2 separate regions of the Homo sapiens genome follow, and region 2 is linked to region 1. The links come from fine-mapping of genetic effects on gene expression. A gene starts in region 1. The other region holds a variant in brackets. All regions are shown on one strand. Distances are from middle to middle.

Region 1 (5,396 bases):
TAACATTACCAGAAAGGGACTTGGTTAGTGAAAAGGCAGATGTAGGGAGAAAGACATGTATTTAAATCACAGATCCACATATACAAACTTGATAACTTCACAAATAACCTAGCTTTTGCATCCCAGTTTTCCTAATTTGCAAAAGACGAAAGAAATAAAAAAGAAAAGGATACTGTCACAATCCAGTATGGGTATTTTAAAAATAAAATAAAAATATAATGAACTTAGCATCAATAACATCAATCATTTAGTAAGCTTTTAGTAAATAGCAGTGTGTCTAATTTTCTTCTTTTCTTTTTTTTTTTTTGAGATGGAGTGCAATGGCGTGATATTGGCTCACTGCAACCGCCGCCTCCTGGGTTCAAGCGGTTCTCCTGCCTCAGCCTCTTGAGTAGCTGGGATTACAGGCTTGTGCCACCATACCTGGCTAATTTTTGTATTTTTAGTACAGACGGGGTTTCACCATATTGGCCAGGCTGGTCTCGAACTCCTGACCACAGGTGATCTACCCACCTCAGCCTCCCAAATTTCTGGGATTATAGGCATGAGCCACTGTGCCCAGCCATCTAATTTTCTTTATAATGAAGGACATACATAGGCTAAAATAGTGGGGTCTAATGATTTAGAACAAAGACAGATAATCTTGCCTCTGAACAAAATACCTAAAGAATCATTTTGCTCTCTTGAAATATTAATTATTTACTGATGATTAATATTTACTTAAAAGCCTTTTTTAAACTTTTATTTTTGGTTCAGGGGTGCATGCGAAGGTTTGTTACATATGTAAATTCATGTCACGGGGGTTTGTTGTACAAAAGCCTTTTATAAATTAAATGATAATATGAATTATATTTTATAGGTAAAATTAGACATTGATTGCGCATGTAATACCTAACTCAGTTATTTTACATATGGAGTAAAGAGAGTAGGTATCACTTTATGGATGAAGAAATTGAATGCTAGAGATGGCCAAAATCATAAAGCTTATTTAATATAATGTTACCAACTGTGAATAAGTTATAAATTTATAAACACCTTTAGGATAAAAAGTGCTTTAACATACATGTCAGTTGATTTGAATATTACACAAATCTAAGATAAATATGGAATGTTTCATGCCTGTATTTGATAGAAAAAGAAACTAAACTAAACTACACAGAGGTTGCAAATTGACCCTTCAAATCTAGAGAGCGGTAAAAGTTTGAGTAAAATTCAAGTCTGACTCCACATCTATTTCACTATTTCAAGCTGTCCCAAGTTGTGAGCGACTTTACCATAATATAGTTAATAAAATAAAGGGAAAAAAGTTTTTAAGTTTTGGAAGACTTGATTTAAAATACAATATGAACATAACATGAAATCAACATAAATAGAACATGAAAAGAATCAGAGTAAATTGCTTGCCTATGCCTTATATGCTTGTATGAAATTCTTGGTATCTTAAAATTGTATAAAAACAAAACTACACACTTATGTGGTAAAAACATACCCCAGCTGTGTCGAGACCTCCGACCACGAATCCACCCCATCAAATACTTATAAGTGCACGTCTACCGCAGAGAGGAATCTAAAGTCTTCAATGCACAAAGGATTCCTGAATAAAATAAAACTGGGCATTTGTTTTTTGTTCTCTTTCCCGTGGTGAGATAAAATATTTTGAATAGAAAAGTAAAATGCAGAAACTTTTCCCCTGTGCATGCCTTTAAGAAAAGAATAGAAATGACAATTCACATAAAGCCAGGCAAAATTAATTTTATACATTTCTCTTGGTTGTAAAATAATCGCCAATTACTTCAAAATGTCATAACAATATAATGAACCTATTAATTCACCTACATTGAGATATTTAATACCAATATTTTACTTTACTGATATTAGATAACAACACACCCAGTTTTCTGTTTATAGTCGTTTATTGCTTCTTGGCCTTTTAGCTAAGATCAAGTGTTTCCAGTTGTTTATTTTATCTGGCAATAATTTAGTTTTCTTTCTGCAAGCTAAACTCAGGTAAGTTATATGCACTTTTGTTGAATGTCCTTTTCTAGTGCATTTTAATCCAACGTGCCCATATCATCATCATCAACAAATTATCATCACCATCATCATTAACAAAACTAATCTCACATGTTTATATAGTAACATCTTAGCAATGCACAGCAGAGCTTCCAGAAAAAACCATTTAATAAATAAGCATAGTGCTTAGATTTCAAAAATAAAAGCTATTTCATATTTGATTATGATAGTTGGAAAGCACAGATATAACTTGTTTCACCTTGCATGTAAAGATGTGTATCAAAGGTAAGTGCCCCCTACAGCATCAGAAAACTCAAAAATTTGACAATTTAAATTGAATCTCAATTCTTCTCATCCTAAATGTAAAGATTCATTTTTCTAGTTTTGCTTAGAGACAAGGCTTCTTCTTATAGTAATATTACAACTTCTGATTCTTCAATAAGTATATCCTAATTACCTATCATCAGATACAGTGATAGAATATACATCAGAAATGATAAGCATTCCGTATCCTCAGGAGTTCTATTCAAGCATCTAAGAAACAATTAGAATTACCTTATAGTGTAAATATTTTTATTTTTTTGAGGTTGAAATATAATTTCTCATATCTTGAATAATAAACACACACACATACACACATACACACACCTGCTCAGAGAGGGAAGATCTTGATTCTTGTGGATAAAAGCCTTCTATAAAACTAGAAAATTTAGATATGTCCTCAGTTCCTGATCTAGAATTGAAAGTGGAGATACTTAGTGAATTTCTATCTTTGAGAAAGATGTGACAAATATTATAATCTCATCTTCCTGTGGAAAAACATAAACCACAGTACTTCCGCCTTATCACTACAAAAATATTGTTAATTTGGTAAAAGAGTTAAGACCACCCATTGTTGGATAAATGTTAGGTTGGTGCAAAAGTAATTGTAGTTTTGCCATTATTTTAAATAACATTTTAGGATTTGAAAATGATGAATTTAAATGATGCCATTTAATCCTAAATATTTTAGAGATTCAATTCAATTCCAGTTAATACCTCAGGTTTTGTTGTAGAACTTACAAAGCAGAATTCTACATGTACATTAAATTACAAAAGTCAAGACTAGGAAAGTCACAATTGAAGATGAAGAAAATGTGGGAGCCTTGTTTTACTAGATAGTAAGACCTATGTTAAAACCGTATTAATAAAGGCAAAGTGGCATGTGGGGCATAGATAGACAAATTGAGAAGGGTAAAAATACAGACAAGAAAAAGTCATGTGCATAGATTAAAAAATATAAGGTAACATTGCAGATAAAGTGGGAAATTAGCTCCTATTCAATAATTTGTCCTGGGTTACTATCACACTGGCCTTTAAGTTACAAAAAATTAGTCCTGGGAATTTTTAAATTTTAATATAAAAAACATGAAATTGCATCTCTGTCATATCTACATCATATGCAGGAGAATTAGAAACTTAAATATATACCCCAGTATACATAAGAATAATATATGAATTGATACCAATGAACAAGATAAGCTAAATATATATTTTATGTTTATTAATTTAAAATACTAACATAAGACATCATATAAAGTAATATAAGATGAACACATTATAACATTTTAACAAAAACCAAAGCTATTAATCTTAAAACTCTGAAATATAAGGAAGGAAAACAGCTTTCATGTGGTGATGTGTTAAAGTTGGACAATAAATTTATTCAACATTTTTTTTCTTTAGCGAATGCTATTTGCTATGCACTTTTCTAGATCTTGAGAATGTCAAAGTAAACAATCCAAAAGAAAGTTTTTGCCCACATGGAAATTAATTACTTTTTTTTTTTTTTTTTTTAAGAGATGGAGTTTCACTCTTGTTGTCCAGGCTGGAGTGCAACGGGGCGATCTCGGCTCACTGCAACCTCCGCCACCTGGGTTCAAGCAATTCTCCTGTCTCAGCCTCCAGAATAACTGGGATTACAGGCATGTGCCACCACACCTGGCTAATTTTTGTATTTCTAGTAGAGACGAGGTTTCACCATGTTAGTCAGGCTGGTCTCGAACTCCTGACCTCAGGTGATCCTCCTGCCTCAGCCTCCCAATGTGCTGAGATTACAGACGTGAGCCACCACACCCAGCTGGAAATTACTTTTTAGTTTAGGTGATATAAAATGAATAAGTATAAAACAAATTCAAAATTAAACAAGATAGGTGAATATAAAACAAGTTGAAGAAAATATGTTATTTTCTGACATACCAAGATTCTTTTCAGCTAATCAACATTTTCTATTAGCTATTTTATATAGTAAAAATAGATCTATATAGAGGAAATATAGGCTGATATTTTCTAACAACTACATTTTAACAAATATTTGGTTTTTGAAAGGAAATGAATAAATGAGTAAATGCAGGCTTTTTATGGGAAAAACCTGAATCACAATTTCCTGAAGAGTTATTTTTATATATGTAGTTTTCGATTGAATAGAGATTGTCTCTTAAATACAGAATTGAGAAAAGGGGGATAGGAATAGGATAAAAAAGAACATTTGAATATCCTACCTATTTCGTTTAGTTCAAATGGCAACTTACAGCCAACTGGGAAGTCCCCACACATACCTAAAAGAAGATTTCTGAAATAAATACCATGATAAAGCTAAGCACCAGGGAGAGTTTTATTGTCATATATAAAGGTCCCTAAACCAACTGACAGAGTGTGGAAAGGATTCTTAAAGAAGAAAATTCTAAAATGGGTCCTGTATGTCGGGTTAAAACAATTAGTTAGATAAAGAAATAGTATGTTAAAACTCCAATTTCTTTCTCAATGTTGAACATACACTCACTTTGCTGTAGTCATGATAGTAAACTTATTGGGGATTTGCTGGGCATTTGTACTGGTTTATTCTATGTGAATTGCAAAAGGACATAGCATAGTTTTCAGATAAAATACTTTCTAATAAGTGAAATAAAACCAACGCAATTAACTTCTGCAGAAAGAATAATTTGACTATAAAAGTACCTGAACAAACTTCATATAGACGTATCTATATAACTTTCAAAAACTATTGTTAGAAGAAAAATTACAATATTTTGCAAACAGCCTGGGCTCAAGTCATTTGAGAACATCCATCACCACAATAAACTATTTAATTACTTTCATTAGTTGAGAAGAGCCAACAATCAACCGGCCTTTTTGGTCAGTAAGCTAACTCGCACTGTGGCCTCAGAAAACCCTTCTCTTCTGGTACACAGGAAAGACTTAACACGCAGCCAACTTGTGGTTAGAAACAGAGTGCTTGGCAGGTTGCTGGCTTCAAGCTGTGACACTAAAGCTGGATGTGGTCAGAGGCGTTTACTGGACGCTTGCCCAAATATGAAAGCTTAAGATGTGCAGCTATTGCCAAG
Region 2 (5,396 bases), 110 kb before region 1:
ATGTTATGATATGCAAACAGCCTATATAAAAATGATTTTTTTACTTCACTTATTTCTTTTCTAAAATTGTATAAAAATATTTCACAGGTGATTCTGAGAATCACAATTAAAATGTATTTGAATACAATCTTAACTGTGATATACTATTTAGAAATTATAATTTTTATTTATTTTATGATATTACTTCAATTAGTCCCTCTGATTTTTAAAAATTAGTAGACTTTATGTTTTAGAAAAGTTTTAGATTACAGAAAATATTGATCAGTTAGTGCAGACTCAATCAACAGCTTAATTCCAACTGGTCTCATCAGAGAATGTGGACATCTGTATTTTACATGTACATCTGTGATTCCTTTCAGGTTAAATTTTGTGAAAGGTTTAAAGTCTGTGCACTATTTGATCTCTACCAGTGCTGCCTGGATTTATCGTTATTCTGGACATGACAACACAGCGACCATCATAGACTGGCAGAGAGTGAAGGACTGTTTCTTATGCAGAGGCTTCCACTGCATGCCAGACTTGTGGCCCCTGCCTAAGATGATCCTATTGTTTTCTGGAGGAGGAGACCACATTGCACAGGGTATTGCCCCTACTCACTTTTGGCAGATTAACTACAATGGATATTTGACCCTCTCTTGTAGCTGTCCGTTGAGCCTCACTCTGTGTGCGCTTTCCTAGGTGATAGTATTACTATTCCAGTCTTATCAGCCAACTCAAGCCATTCCATTTGACCTGTGAAAATAATCCATGTCAGGTTTTCAGGTTTCCAAGCCATTTACAGTCTGAAAATGGTGCCTGTCTTATCAAAAAAGCCACTTATAAGGCTAATATTTAAAGTATTTGGTGGACTTCCATGCTCCCTACCATCTGTAGGCATCTGGTATTGTTAAGCTTTGGTATGGCCTCCTCAAAATTACACAAAAGCAATTTCTGACTCTACCTTCCTCATCTCTTCTTGGTCCACATATTATGAATTCAAGAACAGTCCCTGAACTAGTGCTGTCTTGATTCCTATTTATTTTCTGACCTATTGCTTAACTTGTGTATGCTATATAAGCTGTGTTTAATGGTAACCATTGATTTAAAAACACTTACTGCTATTTGCAAAGTAAGTCCTTAGTTTTAAATTATATCCTTCCGAAAACTGCCACTTAAGTAAAGTTATTTGCTACTGATTGCTAAGAAAATGTTACTTCTTTTAACATGTAATGCAAATCATGGCTGTTTTTGTTTTGTTTTGTTTTGTTTTTTCCTGTATGAACAACTTTCTTCCCTGGGAGAATTAGATATAGCAAATTTGCACAGAGGCATACTCTTTCTTAAAGGGAATGTTAAATATGATAAATGGCTTCTCAGATATGTATGCTATTTTCATTGTGTTTTACAATTCTTTTTTTTTTTTTTTGTAAAAACATGTTAGCATCAGTTTTTTTTTTTTTTTAATTTTAGGTTTAGGGGGTACCTGTGGAGATTTGCTACATGGGTAAATTGAGTATTCTGGGGATTTGGTTTACAGGTTATTTCATTACCCAGGCAATAAGCATACTACCCAACAGGTAGTTTTTTGATCCTCACCCTCCTTCTACTCTCCACCCTCAAGCAGGTCCTGGTTTCTATTGTTCTCTTCTTTGTGTCCACATGTATTCAATGTTTAGCTCCCACTTATAAGTGAGAACATGCAGTATTTGGTTTTCTGTTTCTGTGTTAGTTTGCTTAGGATAATGTCCTCCAGCTTCATCCATGTTGCTGCAAAAGACATGATCTCATTCTTTTATGTGGCTGTGTCATATGCATGGCTGTTTTAGTCACTTACAGTTTCAGAAAAATGATTTTTAAAATGGTCTAGCTTCCTGTTTCTCTAGTATAAATGCCTGAATGTGTTTTCTGGAAATCTTATTATCAAATCACATTTTATTTTTCTAAGCAGAATGAGTTCAAGATTGTAAAGGATTCTGATTTATATAAATAGGCAGTATGACAGGTATTCAGGGGTTTTCTTTATATGCATGCACTTGCCCATTATTTCTGTTTACAAATTACGTTACCTAAATACATCCAATTGAGACAAAATCTCAAAGAATGCATGTTCAGAACATGATTATAATACTTACATAATCATATGTATAACTTGTATCAAGAATTTTTCCATCCTTATATTATTTCTTATTCTCATTACATCAAAATTTTTCCTGCCTCATGTTATTTCACATTATTATCTGTCTCTACATTCCTCCCTCTTTCCTCTTCCAACAAAAAATCCTTTTATGATTCTGAAGCTAATGTTGTTACCTGTGGTCCTACTTGTCCAAATGATAATGACACTAATGTGATAGTTAATAGTGGTCACCACATCCAGGCTTGCAAATCTCAGTTTTGATTTCCTTCTCCTCTGTTAAGTAAAACCTACTGCTTCTGGGCCAGATACACAGATTTGACTTTCAATATCTCTTGCAGTAGAATTTTATTATTTTTCATCAGAAATGTCTTTCTCCTTTCCCATGACACAAGTTAGAATTACCAACAATCGTTACAATAACATCGGTGGTCTAGGTGCTAAATGTTCTTTCCAGGGCTAGCAACACTGTGGTTGGAAGTGTTCTGTACAGAGGAACGTACAGTGAAATGATGTGTCAGCCACACTTTTTGCACACCTTGAGTGTATTAACCAGATGCCTGATGTTTAAATGAAAAATAATCACTGGATTAAATGCAGGAGAAAAATCTCTTTTCCTTTCTGAAGAAAAAATTCAACATGGGCTAGATCAGAATAGAGATGGACCGCTTCAGAATAAATATTTATTTAATAATTATATGGAAAACATTTAAGTAGCCAATATTCTAGGAAAATATACAGCAGAATACTTAATCAGAACTTTGTTTTTATTTCTTTATTATTAATTGCAAATAGATTTTTTAGCTACCCATAGTCTAGACAATATTGTGTAGGGCAGCAGGATGATGTTCACGCCGTGCTCCATCGTTGAGTATCAGAAGATGCCAAGAGTTCAGGACAGATTCTAGCCATTTCCAGGACCTGAAAATGAGGAAGGAGCTAGAGAATTATATAATTTTTCCACTTTCTCATCCCAGCTTCTCTTCTCCTACCAATGCTTTCCAATGGTTGAAAACAGACAGAAGCCAGAGGGTGAGGAAGACTGTGTGATACAGTTGTCAGAGCTCAGCTGCACAGAATGCAGCAAAAAAGCATGGAGAATGGAGGTGAGGTGTGGTTTGAAAACCAGGTGTTGAGAATCCTGCCCCCAGAAGCCTGTGGTGGTAGAGTTGTGAAAGATCCACTGGGAACCCGTTGCACATCCATATAATAAACTATGTGTGAATGTTTCTTGTAGGTAAAAGGGGTCCAGATGAG[A/G]GCAGGGAATAACCTGGACTCATCCTAGATTCTATAGTAGGCTGAATAATGGCTCCAAGTATATCCAGGTCATAATCATTGGAAGCTGTGAATGCTACCTTATAGGGCGAGAGATACTTAGGAGAAGTGAGAAGAGATTGAGGATCTTGAGATTGAAGGATTATTTTGGATTATCAAAGTCAGCTTAAAATGTAACCCCAAGTATCCTTATAAAAGGGATGCAGAGGGAGATTTGAGTACAGAAAAGGAGGAGGCAGTGCAATCATGGGAACAGAAGCTGGAAAGACAAAACCACAAGTGAGGGAACGCTGGCAGACATGAGAAGCTGGATGAGGAGAGGAACAGATTCAGCCCTGCTGTAACCTTGATATTAGCTCCATAAGACTTTTCAGACTCCAACCCTCTAAAACTGTAAGAGAATAATTTTTGTTGTTTTTCTTACTAAATTTGTGCTTGTTTGTTACAGCAGCAATAGTATACTAAGACAGCTGCCATGCATGAAGAGTGATAGGTGGGATATAGCGCTCTAACAGAAAATATGAGACACCTGGTTTGAGGGTGAGGAAGAATCAAAACCACACAACACACAAGTGCAGGTTCATTGCCCATGTCAGGAGTTGTAGTTGCAGGGCTCCGCAGGGATGTATCCAAGAACCCCCTGAGATTCTCTCCCGAGACAAAGAGAGGAATCATCTACACTACCTTTTTCTGTGCTGATTTTCTCATCTGAGTTCAGTTGGAGCCAAAGGAAAAAGAAAAATTTTAGCTTTGCATAAAATTCAAAAATTTTGTTATTATATAGATTTAGGAATTTGAATTCCTGAAATGACACATTCCCGTGACTGAACATGACTAAGAGACGATTATCTGAGAATTACTTACATAATTGGAGACTCCGGGGAAGCAGGTGAAGAGCAAGACTATATATCCAATTTAGAGGGAAATTGAGGGAAACCTTGGTCATAAACTTACACGGCAGTATTTGAATTATTCTAATTGTTTTGGTTACATAAATAGAATTCTGTAGTCTTGAGAAACAATAATTCTCATACAAATGTAGCCTTCTAATCTGAATTCTGTTAAAACTACCAATAACCACTAATCTCTTCTAGTTTTAATCTTCTGGTTTATCATTTTTGTGAATTTGAGAATAAAGTACTCTGATCGTTATATGTCACTCTTCTATTCATTATTTTTATAAAAATATAAATATTTGATTTCTCTAACATTGCCTATAATTTTTTAATGTCAGCATTATATAATAAAATACATTCTCCATAAAGTTACAAATATCAAATAAAAACATATACACATATGTATACATACATTTTTTTTTTTTTTTGAGACTGAGTTTCACTCTTATTGCCCAGGCTGGGGTGTAATGGCATGATCTCGGCTCACCACAACCTCCGCCTCCCGGCTTCAAGTGATTCTCTTGCTTCAGCCTTCCTGAGTAGCTGGGATTACAGGCATGCACTACCATGCCCGGCTAATTTTGTATTTTTAGTAGAGATGGGGTTTCTCCATGTTGGTCAGGCTGATCTCGAACTCCTGACCTCAGATGATCCGCCTGCCTCAGCCTCCCAAAGTGCTGGGATTACAGGTGTGAGCCACCACATCTGGCAAATAAAAATATAATTACTATAAAGTTCATATATAGTATTATGTTTAAAATGGTATGCCACTTTATATTTTGGCTTTAAGTTATTGGTCCTGTGACTGAACTTTGGCTTCTTTCTCTTTTGTAAGAAATATTGTAGAGCATACATAATGATGTGGGTACAAAGTTAGAAGATGTGTTCAAGGAAGGCATTCCAAAGGAGGTGTCATTTGAGTAATGTCAAATGAGCGACGTTTGACGTAGAGAGTCTCTAAAATATTTGAGCAAGGAACTGTTCAAATAGTGGACAGTCTCTACAACCTAAGACTGAATGGTTTGTTTGAGAAGTAGCATTGGGGCTAGATCAGAGGGAGGGACTGAGCAGAAATAGGTAGAAATAAAGACAGAGAAATTGTCAGGGAAACA

The links. PIP is the estimated chance that this variant, and not a neighbour inherited with it, causes the effect.
Region 2: its variant is the best candidate, but not a certain one, in a credible set for the expression of KLRK1 in whole blood (TOPMed, PIP 0.76).

The regions. Positions count from the first base shown.
Region 1 is chr12:10,387,282-10,392,677 of GRCh38, forward strand. It overlaps KLRK1 (killer cell lectin like receptor K1), which reads right to left and starts at 2,760. Exons shown (of 8, transcript NM_007360.4): 1 at 2,662-2,760; 2 at 1,490-1,594. The coding sequence starts at 1,529. It overlaps KLRC4-KLRK1 (KLRC4-KLRK1 readthrough), which reads right to left. Exons shown (of 13, transcript NM_001199805.1): 6 at 4,554-4,610; 7 at 1,490-1,594. The coding sequence starts at 1,529. All of the region lies in intron 3 of KLRK1-AS1 (KLRK1 antisense RNA 1), which reads left to right.
Region 2 is chr12:10,277,562-10,282,957 of GRCh38, forward strand. It overlaps LOC105369656 (a long non-coding RNA gene), which reads right to left. Exons shown (of 2, transcript XR_931353.3): 2 at 2,874-3,034. It also overlaps a transcript of KLRD1 not described here. Among named protein-coding and RNA genes, the nearest start is that of KLRD1, 28 kb to the right of the region's middle. The variant A/G (reference allele first, on the strand shown) is at 3,371.